Linked DNA regions of Homo sapiens: region 2 is linked to region 1. Evidence: fine-mapped expression QTL. Tissue or cell type: blood mononuclear cells. Region 1 holds a variant in brackets; the other region holds the start of a gene. All regions are shown on one strand. Distances are from middle to middle.

Evidence for each region. PIP is the estimated chance that this variant, and not a neighbour inherited with it, causes the effect.
Region 2: it holds the start of SLC2A11, and the variant in region 1 is fine-mapped to the expression of SLC2A11 in blood mononuclear cells (TOPMed, PIP above 0.99).

The regions. Positions count from the first base shown.
Region 1 is chr22:23,878,594-23,886,693 of GRCh38, forward strand. It overlaps SLC2A11 (solute carrier family 2 member 11), which reads left to right. Exons shown (of 12, transcript NM_001024939.4): 7 at 3,866-4,053; 8 at 4,166-4,276; 9 at 5,179-5,280; 10 at 5,356-5,431; 11 at 5,709-5,836; 12 at 6,056-7,719. The coding sequence ends at 6,256. It also overlaps the pseudogene RN7SL268P. Among named protein-coding and RNA genes, the nearest start is that of MIF, 12 kb to the right of the region's middle. The variant G/A (reference allele first, on the strand shown) is at 4,194.
Region 2 is chr22:23,854,088-23,862,187 of GRCh38, forward strand. SLC2A11 (solute carrier family 2 member 11) reads left to right here and starts at 3,788. Exons shown (of 12, transcript NM_001024939.4): 1 at 3,788-3,942; 2 at 8,017-8,100. The coding sequence starts at 3,913.

The DNA.
Region 1 (8,100 bases):
CTGCCAAATCCCAAGTCAAGGGATGGGAAAATTGATGGCATATCCTCTCCCATCGCAAGGGCTGTGGATTTAAGGAGGGGTGAAGACCGGGGCCCATTAGTGTACTCTTCTCTGTCACCATGGCCGCAATTATTACTTATGTCTCTCCTCTGTGCAAAATGTGTTCAGTCCCATCCCAGGATCCCCCAAAGTCTCATCCAATCATGGCATCGGGCTTGAAGTCCCAGATCTTACGCCACATTAAGTCTATATGGGCCTTTTCTTGATCCAGAAACCTAGGATCTAGAAAGATGAGTCTTCTTCCCTTCCCACACTCAGCATGCAATGGTAAAAAGTAAGATGAGGTAACCAAAATTAATGCTCTCATTTCAAAAACGAGGAAGCAAGGCAGGCACAGTGCAGTCACTAATCTATAACAATTCTGAAGCGCCCCTAGGAAAATATGGCCATGTCCCCTGCCTTGGGGGTAGGGAGTATTCTTTGTTCAAGTTCCAGCTCTGTCCCCTACCCCCTATGAAGGGCACCCCAGGCCATGGTTCTTTTATTTTTTTTATTTTTTTTATCTTTTAGAGACAGGTTCTCGCTTGTCCAGGCTGGAGTGCTGTGGCTGTTCATAGGCATGACGCCATTGTTGATCAGCACGGAAGTTTTCTTCTTTTTTGTTCTTGTTTTTTTGGTTTTGTTTGGGACAGGGTCTCACTCTGTCGCCCAGGCTGGAGTGGTGTGATCTCAGCTCACTGCAACCTCCACCTCCCAGGCCCAATCAATTCTCCCACCTCAGCCTCCTGAGTAGCTGGGACTACTGGCCCGTGCCACCACGCTTGGCTAATTTTTTTTTATTATTGTATTTTTTGTAAAGATGGAGTTTCACCTCTTTGCCTGGGCAGGTCTCAAACTCCTGAGATCAAATGATCCTCCCCCCTTGGCCTCCCAAAGTGCGTGGATTATAGGCATGAGCCATTGTATCTGGCTAGCATGGGAGTTTTGAACTGTCCCATTTCCAACCTGGGCCAGTGCATTCCTCCTTAGGCAGCCTGGTGGTCCCTGCTCCTGGGATGTCACTATATTGATGCTGAACTTAGTGCAGACACCTGATCTGCCTAGCGTACTACAACCCAGAGCTCCTGGGCCCAGGCGATCCTCCTGTCTCAGCCTCCTGAGTAGCTGGGACTCTAGGCACACACCACTATGCGTGGCTCTCCATGCTTCTTGGGTCTACCCTCTGAGATGTTTTTCCTTTTCTTTCACCTTCCTTGATTCCTTCTGAAGAGGGCGTTGCACAATGTGCTGCTTTTGATGGTTGAGCAAATTTCTCAGCCTCCTTCCTGCCTATAGAGAGTTGGGGCAGGCTGGGCGCCAGCTCACGCCTGTAATCCCAGGGAGGCTGAGGCGGGCAGATCACGAGGTCAAGACATCAAGACCAGCCTGGCCAACATGGTGAAACCCCATCTCTACTAACAATACAAAAATTAGCTGGGTATGGTGGCACGTACCTGTAGTCCCAGCTACTAGGGAGGCTGAGGCAGGAGAATTGCTTGAACCCGAGAGGCGGAGGTTGCAGTGGCAGGAGAATTGCTTGAACCCGAGAGGCGGAGGTTGCAGTGAGCCAAGATTGTGCCAGTGCACACTGCACTCCAGCCTGGTGACAGAGTGAGACTCCATCTCAAAAAAAAAAAAAAAAAAAAGAAAAGAAAAGAAAACAAAGTTGGGGCACAGAAGTCTTTATATTTCAAATTGTCCTGGTCTTTTTTTTGTCCAAACTGGCAGAGCTTTTGCCAATACAACTTTCTCAAAAATGATGTGAATTTTCTATGTATTCGAGGTTTTTTCATGTGTCAACAAACCACGCTCACAATTATTTTTGAGACAGGCTTCTCTCCCAAGGCCTAATTGCTGGTATTTAGGGTATGTCAGGCTACCGTGAATCAACGCCCTCAAGCCTCCTAAATGCCCCCTTTTCTAGTTGTGAGGGTCTGTGAGGCACTGCTTTAAGCTATACCCTTGATTTGATCTTTACTATGAGTCCATGGCTTCCTGGCAGTGCTCTGGATTTGATCTTTGCTCACAGGCTGTTACTTAATTTGGGATTCTTTTGCTAGCTGGAGAGGATAGAGGCGAGAAAACATTTTTTGTTGTTGTTTTCAACTAACCCAGTGTTTCTGAAATATGCTACGTTTAATTAAATTTTGTTGCCTCTGAATTCTGCTTGCAAACTGGCCAGTTATTTTCTGAGCTAATTCTTCATGTCTTACAGCAAGCTTAGAATATGCATCTAACAGCAACCAGTTCATGCTTTCAACATTTGGAGTTTTCTTTGCTCAAGTCCATAAGTTCACTGAGCCCATTTTCTTTCTTCCGTGTTACTGCACTATATAACATAGCTTTTCATTTCTCCAGCCTCATCGCCGTCCTCTGCCTCGTCTTGGAACTGATACCATATTTCACAGGTCTTTGTTACGGTAGCACCAACTCCTGGTGCCAATTTATTGATCAGCTTTCTATTGCTGACTAATAGATGATCATAACATCTCGGTGGTAAAGAAACAAAAAAAGCAATTATTTAGCCTAAGCCTCTAAGTCCTCTGGGCTGGGCTGATCTAGGATGGTTCTGGCTGATGGCTCTGCTGATCTTGGTCATTCCTGCAACTGCAGCTCAGCTGGGCATTGGCTGGCTGATCTAGAATAGTCCCAGTGAGGGTGGCTTAGCTGGGCCCCTTTGGCTGTCCATGTCTTGTCATCCTCCTGGCTAGCCTGGAATGTTCTCATGAAGGCAGAAGAGCAAGTAGAAGTGAGCAAGGCCTCTTAAGGCTTAGGCTGGAACATGGTACGCCCTCACTGCAGCCTCATCCTATTGGCCGAGCCCAGAGCCAGGAGCAGGGATGTAGGCAGTACTTGCCCCTTTAGTGGGAGGAACTGCAAAATCACACAGCAAGCAGTGTGGGTGCAGGGAGGGGTGAAGAATTGGGTTTGATAATGTGCTGCAATAGTCATGTCCTGTCTGATATGTCCGCAGAACCCTGCGTTTCTTTCTAAAGCCTTTTTTCATCCATGGTGGCAACACCGCAACAGCCCTGAGAAATGTCAGGGCAAGGAAGATCATCTCCATCTGACCAGGGAGGCAAACAGAGACAGAGAGATTGAGAGAGACAGAGGCAGAGAGAGAGAAACACACACACACACAGACAGACACAGAGACAGAGAGATTGAGAGAGACAGAGGCAGAGAGAGAGAGAAACACACACACACACAGACACAGAGACAGAGAGATTGAGAGAGACAGAGGCAGAGAGAGAGAAACACACACACACACAGACACAGAGACAGAGAGATTGAGAGAGACAGAGGCAGAGAGAGAGAGAAACACACACACACACACACACACAGAGACAGAGAGATTGAGAGAGACAGAGGCAGAGAGAGAGAGAAACACACACACAGACACAGAGACAGAGAGATTGAGAGGCAGAGAGAGAAACACACACACACACAGAGACACACACAGAGACAGAGAGATTGAGAAAGACAGGCAGAGAGAGAGAGAAACACACACACACAGACACAGAGACAGAGAGATTGAGAGAGACAGAGGCAGAGAGAGAGAGAAACACACACACACACACAGACACAGAGACAGAGAGATTGAGAGGCAGAGAGAGAAACACACACACACACAGAGACACACACAGAGACAGAGAGATTGAGAGAGACAGAGGCAGAGAGAGAGACACACACACACACAGACAGACTCAGAGACAGAGAGTGAGCCAAGAAGGAAAGGAATGGTGGGATGGAGGGGGGCGTCCCTGTAGGGGGACCAAAGAGGGGCTTGGGGACGGGGAGCTCAGTACCCTCCTCCCTGGCTCAGCACTACGGCGGCTCCGGGGCTCCGGGGACTTGGCAGGGGAGCTGGAGGAGCTGGAGGAGGAGCGCGCTGCCTGCCAGGGCTGCCGTGCCCGGCGCCCATGGGAGCTGTTCCAGCATCGGGCCCTGAGGAGACAGGTGACAAGCCTCGTGGTTCTGGGCAGTGCCATGGAGCTCTGCGGGAATGACTCGGTGAGACCCCTGCCCCGCCGCACACCCTGGGCCCCGGGGGCTTGGTGTTGCAGGCCGCTGGGAGCCATGGGAGGTGGAAGGGAGCCCAGGCCTGAAAGCCACCCTCTCCCAGGTGTACGCCTACGCCTCCTCCGTGTTCC[G/A]GAAGGCAGGAGTGCCGGAAGCGAAGATCCAGTACGCGATCATCGGGACTGGGAGCTGCGAGCTGCTCACGGCGGTTGTTAGTGTGAGTCTGGAGGGTGCCCTTCCTCCACCAGCCCTGTGGGGAGGGACCCCCAGGTCCTCTGCATTAAACCAGTTTACACTCCAGCTTATGGTGTTAAAATGCAGTGAGGGGCCAGGTGCGGTGGCTCATGCCTGTAAGCCCAGCACTTTGGGAGGCCGAGGTGGGTGGATCACAAGGTCAGGAGTTCGAGACCAGCCTGGCCAACACAGTGAAACCCCCGTCTCTACTAAAAAATACAAAAAATTATCCCGGCGTGGTGGCGGGCGCCTGTAATCCCAGGTACTTGGGAGGCTGAGGCAGGAGAATCGCATGAACCCAGTAGGTGGAGGTTGCAGTGAGCCGAGATGGTGCCATTGCACTCCAGCCCAGGCAATAGTGCTGAGGTGGGATCAGGAGTTGGAGACCAGCCTGGGCAACATGGTGAAACCCCGTCTCTACAAAAAATACAAAAATTAGCCAGGCGTGGTGGTCTTCGCCTGTAGTGCTAGCTACTGGCGAGGCTGAGGTGGGAGGATCACTTGAGCCTAGGAGGTTGAGACTGCAGTAAACCGAGATTGTGCCACTGCACTCCAGCGTGGGCTGGACCAGTGAGACCCTGTCTCAGCTCAGTGAGACCAGTAAGACCCTGTCTCAATCAATCAATCAATGCAGTGAGTTAGAGAGCATCTATTGAGCATCTACGGTTTGCGGGTCACTTCCAGCACCATTTTGAGATGCGGAAACTGGCTGAAGTTGGGTGATTGATTGACCAAGTTCCTTTGGGAAATTAATAAAGTCACACTGAAGCAATAAACTACCCTCACCTCCACCACCAGCTTTCTCAGGAGACCCCTTCCCATTGCCTGCCCCAGACCTCAGGGACCATGGCTGGGTGTGTGGGTCTGTGCTTTCTGCCTTTGCAGTGTGTGGTAATCGAGAGGGTGGGTCGGCGCGTGCTGCTCATCGGTGGGTACAGCCTGATGACCTGCTGGGGGAGCATCTTCACTGTGGCCCTGTGCCTGCAGGTAGCTGGGGTGGATGAGGGCTGGGGGGTCCAGGCCGGGCTGACTTCCACCTCACCCCCGCCCCGTCCACGGCAGAGCTCCTTCCCCTGGACACTCTACCTGGCCATGGCCTGCATCTTTGCCTTCATCCTCAGCTTTGGCATTGGCCCTGGTGAGTGGGCCCAAGGGGCTCTGGGCATCCATCATCACATAGAAGGAGTGATGGGTGCCTGGGTGCACAGTGGGTGGGTGTGAATGCAATGTCCCCTGCAGGCCCTCAGAGACCACCTCATGCCGGGGCTTCTGGGAGGGAATGGCAGGAGGAGAGCACTGAGGGGCCCCCCATACAGACTGGGCCTGGGCTCCCACTCCCATGTCTGGGCTGGGGTCGGGGAGAGGCAGGCAGGGAACCCTGGCCAGCAGCCCCCTGTCCCTGCCCCTCCTTCTAGCCGGAGTGACGGGGATCCTGGCCACAGAGCTGTTTGACCAGATGGCCAGGCCTGCTGCCTGCATGGTCTGCGGGGCGCTCATGTGGATCATGCTCATCCTGGTCGGCCTGGGATTTCCCTTTATCATGGTAGGCCCGCCCCTCCCGCTGGGGGCCCTGCCTTAGGCTGTGTCCCTGTCATCCTGAGAACCCCAGGGGGAGGCTTCCATCCAGGGAGACTGAGACTGAAAGGGAGGGGTCTTAGGGGAGCAAAGAGGGGGGCAAATGCCTCCTCACGACCTGTCATGGGCCTTCTGTTTAGGGGTTGATGGAGACACACCAGGTCTTGGGGTCTTTTTTAATCCGCAGGAGGCCTTGTCCCACTTCCTCTATGTCCCTTTCCTTGGTGTCTGTGTCTGTGGGGCCATCTACACTGGCCTGTTCCTTCCTGAGACCAAAGGCAAGACCTTCCAAGAGATCTCCAAGGAATTACACAGACTCAACTTCCCCAGGCGGGCCCAGGGCCCCACGTGGAGGAGCCTGGAGGTTATCCAGTCAACAGAACTCTAGTCCCAAAGGGGTGGCCAGAGCCAAAGCCAGCTACTGTCCTGTCCTCTGCTTCCTGCCAGGGCCCTGGTCCTCACTCCCTCCTGCATTCCTCATTTAAGGAGTGTTTATTGAGCACCCTTTGTGTGCAGACATGGCTCCAGGTGCTTAGCAATCAATGGTGAGCGTGGTATTCCAGGCTAAAGGTAATTAACTGACAGAAAATCAGTAACAACATAATTACAGGCTGGTTGTGGCAGCTCATGACTGTAATCCCAGCACTTTGGGAGGCCAAGGTGGGAGGATCAATTGAGGCCAGAGTTTGAAACCAGCCTAGGTAACATAGTGAGACCCCCTATCTCTACAAAAAATTTTAAACATTAGCTGGGCATGGTGGTATGTGCTAACAGCTCTAGCTACTCAGGAGGCTGAGGCAGCAGGATCACTTGAGTCCAAGAGTTCAAGGTAGCAGTAAGCTACAATCACACCACTGCATGCCAGACTGGGTGACAGAGGGAGACTTCATCTCTTTAAAACATAATAATAATAATTACAGACTCAGGAAATGCAGTGAAAGAAAAATACAGGTTGGCCAGGTGAGGTGGCTGATGCCTGTAATCCCAGCACTTTGGGAGGCCAAGATGGGAAGATTGCTTTGAGACCAGAAGTTTGAGACCAGCCTGGGCCACATAGTAAGATCCTGTTTCTACCAAAAAAAAAAAAAAAAAAAATTAGCTGGGTGTGGTGGTACATGCCTGTGGTCCCAGCTACTCAGGAGGCTGAAATGGGAGGATCACTTGAGCCTGGGAGGTCGAGGCTGCAGTGAGTCCTAATTGAGCCACTGCACTCCAGCCTGGACAACAGAAAGAGACCATGTTTCAAAAAAAATAAATACAGGTTGTAGTGGGTATGGGTATGCATACCAGGAGGCCCGACCTCGTCTGAGAGGGGAGTGGTCAGAAAAGAATTTTCTGAGGAATTGATGTTTTTAATCAACTTTATTGAGGTATAATTTATACATAACCAACTGCATCCATTTTAAGTATATATTTGGCGAGTTTTGAGTTCTAAGTATAGTTTTGGTGAGTGTATACACTTGGGAAACACCACCGTGATCAAGATGGAACCTTTACCCTACCCCAAGGCACCCACATGCCCATTTGCTATCAGTAACCCACCCCAGTCCCAGACCTGGGGAACCACTGACCTGCTTTCTGCCTCAATTGGTCAGATTTGCCTTTTTTCAGAATCTGAAGTCATTCCGTACTGTATGTACACATTTGTGTCTGGCTTGGCTCCAGATAAAGTTTTTGGGATTCATGAATGTTGTTGCACGTATTAGGAGAGACTCCTTTGTATTGCTGAGTAGTATTCCCCTCTGTGGTTAGACCATGATTTATTTATCCATCTACCTGTTGGTGAACATTTTGGCTGTTTCTAATTCTTGGCCATCATGAATAAAACTGCTGTGAATGTTCCTACAATAATAATTGTCTAAACATATGTTTTTATTTCTTTTGTGTCTTAGTCCGTCGGGCTGCTATAACTAAGAACCACAGCCTGGGTGGCTTATAAACAACAGAAATTTATTTTTCATGGTTCTGGAGGCTGGGAAGTCCAAGATCAAGGTGCCAGTGGATTCAGTGTCTGTTGAGGGCCCATGTCTTGATTCATAGATGGCGGTCTTCTTGCTGTGTTCTCCTAGACATGGCAGAAGGGGCAAGGGAGCTCTCTGGGGTCTCTTTTATAAGGGCACCAATCCCATTCATGCAGGCTCTGCCCTCATGACCTAATCACCTCCGAGGAGGCCCAAAGGCCCTACCTCCAAGTACCATCATATGAGGGATTAGGTTTCAAGGTATGAACCT
Region 2 (8,100 bases), 25 kb before region 1:
GATTGCAGATGGAGTCTCGTTCACTCAGTGCTCAATGGTGCCCAGGCTGGAGTGCAGTGGCGTGATCTCGGCTCGCTGCAACCACCTCCCAGCCGCCTGCCTTGGCCTCCCGGAGAGCCGAGATTGCAGCCTCTGCCCGGCCGCCACCCCGTATGGGAAGTGAGGAGCGTCTCTGCTTGGCCACCCATCGTCTGGGATGTGAGGAGCCCCTCTGCCTGGCTGCCCAGTCTGGAAAGTGAGGAGCGTCTCTGCCCGGCCGCCATCCCATCTGGGAAGCGAGGAGCGCCTCTTCCCCGCCGCCATCCCATCTAGGAAGTGAGGAGCGTCTCTGCCCGGCCGCCCATCGTCTGAGATGTGGGGAGCACCTCTGCCCCGCCGCCCTGTCTGGGATGTGAGGAGCGCCTCTGCTGGGCCGCAGCCCTGTCTGGGAGGTGGGGAGCGTCTCTGCCCGGCTGCTCCGTCTGAGAAGTGAGGAAACCCTCTGCCTGGCAACCGCCCCGTCTGAGAAGTGAGGAGCCCCTCCGTCCGGCAACCACCCCGTCTGGGAAGTGAGGAGCGTCTCCGCCCAGCAGCCACCCCGTCCGGGAGGGAGGTGGGGGGGGTCAGCCCCCCGCCCGGCCAGCCGCCCCGTCCTGGAGGTGAGGGGCTCCTCTGCCCGGCCGCCCCTACTGGGAAGTGAGGAGCCCCTCTGCCCGGCCAGACGCCCCGTCCAGGAGGGAGGTGGGGGGGTCAGCCCCCCGCCCGGCCAGCCGCCCAGTCCGGGAGGGAGGTGGGGGGTCAGCCCCCCGCCCGGCCAGCCGCCCCGTCTGGGAGGGAGGTGGGGGGATCAGCCCCCCGCCTGGCCAGCCGCCCCATCCGGGAGGTGAGGGGCGCCTCTGCCCGGCCGCCCCTACTGGGAAGTGAGGAGCCCCTCTGCCCGGCCAGCCGCCCCGCCCGGGAGGGAGGTGGGGGGGTCATCCCCCCACCTGGCCAGCCGCCCCATCCGGGAGGGAGGTGGGGGGGTCAGCCCCCTGCCCGGCCAGCCGCCCCGTCCGGGAGGGGGGAGGGGGGGTCAGCCCCCTGCCCGGCCAGCCGCCCCGTCCGGGAGGGAGGTGGGGGGGGTCAGCCCCCCGCCTGGCCAGCCGCCCCGTCCGGGAGGGAGGTGGGGGGATCAGCCCCCCGCCTGGCCAGTCGCCCCGTCCGGGAGGTGAGGGGCGCCTCTGCCCGGCCGCCCCTACTGGAAAGTGAGGAGCCCCTCTGCCCGGCCAGCCGCCCCGTCCGGGAGGGAGGCGGGGTGGGGGGGGGGGGGTCGGCCAGCCGCCCCGTCCGGGAGGGAGGTGGGGGGGGTCAGCCCCCCTTCCGGCCGGCCGCCCCGTCCGGGAGGTGAGGGGCGCCTCTGCCCGGCCGCCCCTACTGGGAAGTGAGGACCCCTCTGCCCGGCCAGCCGCCCCGTCCGGGAGGGAGGTGGGGGGGACAGCCCCCCGCCCAGCCAGCCGCCCTATCCAGGAGGTGAGGGGCGCCTCTGCCCGGCCGTCCCTACTGGGAAGTGAGGAGCCCCTCTGCCTGGCCAGCCGCCCCGTCCGGGAGGGTGGTGGGGGGGTCAGCCCCCCGCCCGGCCAGCCGCCCCATCCGGGAGGTGAGGGGCGCTTCTGCCCGGCCGCCCCTACTGGGAAGTGAGGAGCCCCTCTGCCCGGCCACGACCCCGTCTGGGAGGTGTGCCCAGCGGCTCATTGGGGATGGGCCATGATGACAATGGCGGTTTTGTGGAATAGAAAGGCGGGAAGGGTGGGGAAAAAATTGAGAAATCGGATGGTTGCCGGGTCTCTGTGGATAGAAGTAGACATGGGAGACTTTTCATTTTGTTCTGTACTAAGAAAAATTCTTCTGCCTTGGGATCCTGTTGATCTGTGACCTTATCCCCAACCCTGTGCTCTCTGAAACATGTGCTGTGTCCACTCAGGGTTAAATGGATTAAGGGCGGTGCAAGATGTGCTTTGTTAAACAGATGCTTGAAGGCAGCATGCTCGTTAAGAGTCATCACCACTCCCTAATCTTAAGTACCCAGGGACACAAACACTGCGGAAGGCCAAGGCCGCAGGGTCCTCTGCCTAGGAAAACCAGAGACCTTTGTTCACTTGTTTATCTGCTGACCTTCCCTCCACTATTGTCCTATGACCCTGCCAAATCCCCCTCTGCGAGAAACACCCAAGAATGATCAATAAAAAAAAAATAAATAAATTAAAAAAAAAAAAGAAAAAAATTAACCTATCAAAATAAAATATCAGCAGTTGAAACTAACAATGTATTAATAACAATAATATTATGACCAAGTTGCGTCTACCCCAAGAATTCAAGAATGGTTTACCATTAGAAAGTTTATTGATGTAACTGATCTCATTAACAGATTAAAGGAGAATACCCATATGATCATCTTAATAGATGCACGAAAAGCATGCAATAAAATACCTATTTATTATAACTGCTAATATTTTGTGTTTTTCCTTAAAAATGCAGTGTTTTTAGGAATTAAAGTTCAGAGCAGCAAAAGTCAAACAAAAACCAAGTCTGAGCAATAGAGCTACTACAGTGCCCATCACAGTGTCTGCTCAGGTGACTTCTTAAGGTCATGTCCAGCTCTATGTTTCTGTGACCACAAATAGCATCTTTGGCAAGTCTAGTTTCAGTTGGTCTTTGTCCAGCTCCTGGATTCCTCCATGCAGGGCCTGAGAAGCCCTGAGGGATAAAAGATTAATCCGGTTCAGTGGACTCTGTGGTTCCTCAACTCCAAGTGCCCCCAGCATAAGTCGGACCTGCCTCTCACGCAATGGATCCCCTGGCGGCAACCCGAGACCGGTTCTCCTACCCGCATTCCGCCAAGTCTCTCGCTCTGCCCAGGACGCACAGATGAGAGCGCTCCGAAGACTGGTGGGTCTATCTTTCGGTCTTTCCTAATTTTCCCGTCCTCTGGGGAAAGGTCGGGGATACCTGAACCAAAGTGTGTGTGTGTGGGGGGGGGGGGGTGTAGGTGGGGCGTGCATAGATGTGCACAACCAAGGGCTTGGCCCTCCGGAGAACGCCCAGGGGCAGTGGCCTCCGAGGTTCTGGCGGCCGGCAGTGGCGACCGGCGCAGGGAATCGCGCAGGGTTGCGGCTGAGGTCAGACCAGCGAGAGACAGAGACCCGCAGACATTTAGTCCAGAGACTGTAGCAAAGGAGGGGGACGAGGGGCCAGAGCCGGAATTTCGGGGGAGGACTTGGGAGCGCGGCGACCAGAGTCGCTTGCTGGCACTTGCGAGGGCGAATGCAGGGGCTTGGCCGAGATGACCTTGGACCAGAGCTCCCTTCCGGCCTGCAGAGATGAGCTTGGGGCTTAGCCGAGTAAGGAGTGAGCGGCTTTTCAGCCTCAGTGCTGCGGCAGAGGCGGATGGAGGATGAACTGGAGCCGTCCTTACGGCCTCGGACGCAGGTGAGCTCCCAGCGGCGGCGACAAACCCCGCGGCGGTGACCCCAAACCCCCCCCCCGCGGCGGCGACTCCCCCCCAACACGCTGGGGCGAACTCCCCAGCACCCCCAGCCCTTCTTAAAAACGCTGAGTCCGCGCATGCGCCTCAGGCGCCCTCCGCGACACTCTAGCGGCTCTGCGCTTCACTGCGCCTGAGCTTGAGTCTCAGGCCTTAGTCCCGGCCATCGTTTAGCGTTGCGCGAACCCTCAGCTGGTGCGGCCGCTCTCAATACCCACTGCGCTTGCGCTACAGCTTCGTCTCGACGGGTTTGCTCCTCTCAAACGCTCACTGCGCGTGCGCTAGCGCCTCTTTCACCACTGGGCGCTGCGCGCTGCCCTTCCCTCCGCGCACAGGCTGCCGGCTCACCGCTTGCTAATGGCAGCCGGGGTCTCCCTGGGACAGCAAGACCTCCGCTCAGGCCCCTCTTTCGAATGCTCCACGCCCTCCTGCGATCTAGAATGGTATGAATTCTCATACTTGCCCAGACCAGGCGTTTCAGATGAGGGATTGCGGACCTGAGTGAACTGCGCAGGTGCAGCCACCTGGGAGGCTTAACTAAGTCGTCAAATGTTCAAAAATATCGTGCTTGTATGTACAGTGGCGTTAGGTGCTAGGCTCAGATGTGCATAGGCAGGTGTTTACGCCCAGGGTCGGCCTGTGGGCCAGAGCAAGGTTGCTGGACCCTGGCATCCCAGCCCCCAGAGATGCTAAATCCTCTGCCGATCAGCCCTGACCTCAGAGGCAGTAAGCCCTCCGAGCGCTGCAATCCTGACTGCTCGCCCCCTCCCGAGACTGTTTCCCACCCCCGCCTCTTTCCTCCTCATGCTCCCTCAGCTCTGACCTGACGTCCTGCCTCACAGAGGGAAAGGGCGCAGCCAGAGGAGAGCGCCCGCACTGCACTGCCCACCGCTTCTAGGGGTTCCTTCCCAATCTGGACTGATTTCTTTAGGTATTTGCATGGCACATTCCCTCACCTCCTTTGTCTTGATTTGCACTTGTATTCCTTGACAGCCTTATTTAAAATAGCACCAACTAAGGTGGGAGGATCGCCCAGGAGTTCGAAGCTGCAGGGATCTAATAGGATCTCACCACTGCACTCCAGCGTGGGCGACGTAGCGAGACCTTGTCTCTAAAAAATAAAAATAAAATAAAATAAAATAAAATAGCACCACCTGGTCCAAACACTTCCTACGCCCCTTCACTGCTTTAAGTCTCTGTAGCACCAGCTGATGTACTATATATTTTGCTTGTTCATTTTGCGATTGCTTGTCTTTCTCTGCTGGAAGGAAAGCTCTGACAGCTCATGGATTTTGTCTGTTGTTCACTGCTGTATCCCAACACCTAGAACAGTAGGATTATTGACCATAATAGGGAGGCAATAAATCTTTGTTTGCTGAATTAATGGTCCCTATCGTAGCTAATGTCTGAATGCTTACCATGACCAGGCACGGTATAGGCAATCTCCATGCATGATCTCATTGAATTCAACGATTTCCTGTAGTCTTAGAGACCTGTCAATATCTCCTGCTACATGAGCTCAGCTGCCATCAAGCACTGTGTTCGCTGCTTCCTTCACATCTGCTGTCTTAAGGGAGCTCTCACTTCCATGCGGCCCCCGTGGAGCTGTAATTTGGCCTCAATGGGACCAGATGCCAGGTTTCTCACCTGGCTTCTTCCTAAGGCTTCCAGCCTTAGAGAAAGTTACTTAGGCCTTATTGGAACTATGGGCAGCCAGGGCCCCTGTCACCAACCTGTCTCCAGACCTATGGCAAGGCCTTCAGCAGGATTCTGCCCTCCAGAGCCACTTCCTCTGCTCCCCCAGCCTCCAGTGCAGTATCTCACTGAATGGTGAAAGCACAGCTGTCTCTTTCCCAGCTGTATCTTGCCCCCCAGCACACTTCCTGGCTGAGATAAACATTCAGCATTTTTTTTTTTTTGAGATGGAGTCTCACTCTGTTGCCCAGGCAGGAGGGCAGTGGCGCGATCTGGGCTTACTGCAACCTCCGCCTCCCTCCCGGATTCAAGCAATTCTGCCTCAGCCTTCTGAGTAGCTGGGATTACAGGTGCCCACCACCAAGCCCGGCTAATTTTTGTATTTTTAGTAGAGACAGGGTTTTACCATGTTGGCCAGGCTGGTCTCGAACTCCTGACCTCAAGTGGTCTGCCCACCTCGGCCTCCCAAAGTGCAGGGATTGCAGGTGTGGGCCACGACATCCGGCCAACACTCAGTATTTGACTAATAAATGAATAAATAGTCCGTAGGTTCTGGAAACTTCAGAAAACCTTAGCCAAACATCCTTCTGTCATGAAAATTGTATCAAAGTTTTCAAAAATAATACATTTAATTCTACAGAACAATTTGCCAGAACAAGAAAGGCAGTATTTTTTGGGGGAAGATATCAACGATTCAATTTTTGTAAAGTCAACTACTTTGCAAATATCTAGGAAAATACCTGAGGGAAGGAGTTAATTGTTGTGCCTTTGGAGGAGTGGAGAACTTTCAGTATATACTGAATTTTCAAAAATCTTAACAAACGTGTCATTTTGTAATTAAAAATCACAAAAGAGTGGGCTGGGTATGGTGGCTCACGCCTGTAATCCTACCACTTTGGGAGGCCAAGGCGAGTGTATCGCTTGAGCTCAGGAGTTTGAAACCAGCCTGGGCAATATGGTGAAATCCCATCTCTACAAAAAAATTAGCCCAGCATGATGGTGTGTGCCTGTAGTCCCAGCTACTTGGGGGGCTGAGGTGGGAGGATCGCTTGAGCCCAGGAGGTTGAGGCTGCAGTGAATCAAGATTGCGACACTGCACTCCAGCCTGGGTGACAAAATGAGACCTTGTCTCAAAAAACAAAACAGAAAATCACCAAAGGAGAAAGATAAATACTTCTGTGAATCCCTAAGACGACCTCAACTACAGGTCGGGTGCGGTGGCTCACGTCTGTAATCTCAGCAATTTGGAGGCTGAGGTGGGCAGATCACTTGAGGTCAGGAGTCTCTACTAAAAATACAAAAATTAGCTGGGTGTGGTGGTGCATGCCTGCAATCCCAGCTACTCGGGAGGCTGAGGCAGGAGAATCGCTTGAACTGGGAGGCGGAGATTGCAGTGAGCCAAGATTGCGCCATTGCACTCCAGCCTGGGCGGCAGAGCAAAACTCCGTCTCTTTTTTTTTTTTGAGACGGAGTCTCACTCAACCTCCACCTCCTGGGTTCAAGCAGTTCTCTGCCTCAGCCTCCCGAGTAGCTGGGATTACAGACGCCTGCCAACACGCCCAGCTAATTTTTTTTTTTTTTTGAGACGGAGTCTCGCTCTGTCGCCCAGGCTGGAGTGCAGTGGCGCTATCTCGGCTCACTGCTAGCTCCGCCTCCCGGGTTCACACCATTCTCCTGCCTCAGCCTCCCCAGTAGCTGGGTCTACAGGTGCCCGCCACCACGCCTGGCTAATTTTTTGTATTTTTAGTAGAGGCGGGATTTCACCGTGTTAGCCAGGATGGTCTCAATCTCCTGACCTCGTGATCCGCCCGCCTCGGCCTCCCAAAGTGCTGGGATTACAGGCATGAGCCACTGCGCCCGGCCAATTTTTGTGTTTTTAGTAGAGATGGGGTTTCACCATCTTGGCCAGGTTGGTCTTAAACTTCTGACATTGTGATCCACCCGCCTCGGCCTCCCAAAGTGCTGGGATTACAGGTGTGAGCCACTGCGCCAGGCCAAGACTCAGTCTCAAAAAAAAAAAAAAAAAAAAAAAAAGAAAATCCCAACTATCCCAACTACAAAGGATGAGGCATCAGGGATGCCTTGGGGAATTCTCCCTCCATCTCTAAGGGTGTTTCACTGTCCTTTTGTGTACCAAGTGTGCATGACTCATGGGTACCCAGCCTAGAAGTAGGCTTCATTATCTGCAGGTCCAGGTAAGGAAGTCACTTAGGATGAGAAAGGAAGGGGAGAGCTGGGATAGGGACCAGGCACCTGGGCCATTTATGCTGCCTCTCTACTACTCATATGTCCCCAAGTCCTTGCACCTGCAGGTCCATGTGGCATCTTCTCTTAGCCTCATTGCAGAACATGCTGGTGGGAGGTAAGAGAGGTGGCTCAGCCCAGATTCCTGGAGCCTGGCCACTCTGTTGGAGAAGGTTTTCCTGGGGCAAGTCAGAGGCTCCTGTCCTGCTGGAGGCAGAGCCTTACTCTACTGGGGCCCCAGCTCAGGGGACTGTCTTCCCCAAACACAGCAGACGTGCTCAGGGGCAGCCCAACAAGGAGGGATGGGAACCGCTCTCCAGCTCAGGGAAATGTTGGGGCTATGGGTGGGGTGAGGGTAAAGTGGGGTCCTGGACTCAGAACAGGAGGCTTGGGTTCCTCTGCTACCTGCCAGCCATGTGACCCAGGTAACTCCTCTCTGTGCCTCACTTTCCTCATCTGCAAAGTGGAGACATCACTGCCTGATTCAAATAAATTGCAATGCTGTGATTGGCAGCTCTGGTCCAGGGAGGGGGTGGAGGCTGTTGTTGGTCACTCTGTGTTCTCTCCTCTCTCCTCAGATTCAGGGCAGGATCCTGCTCCTGACCATCTGCGCTGCCGGCATTGGTGGGACTTTTCAGTTTGGCTATAACCTCTCTATCATC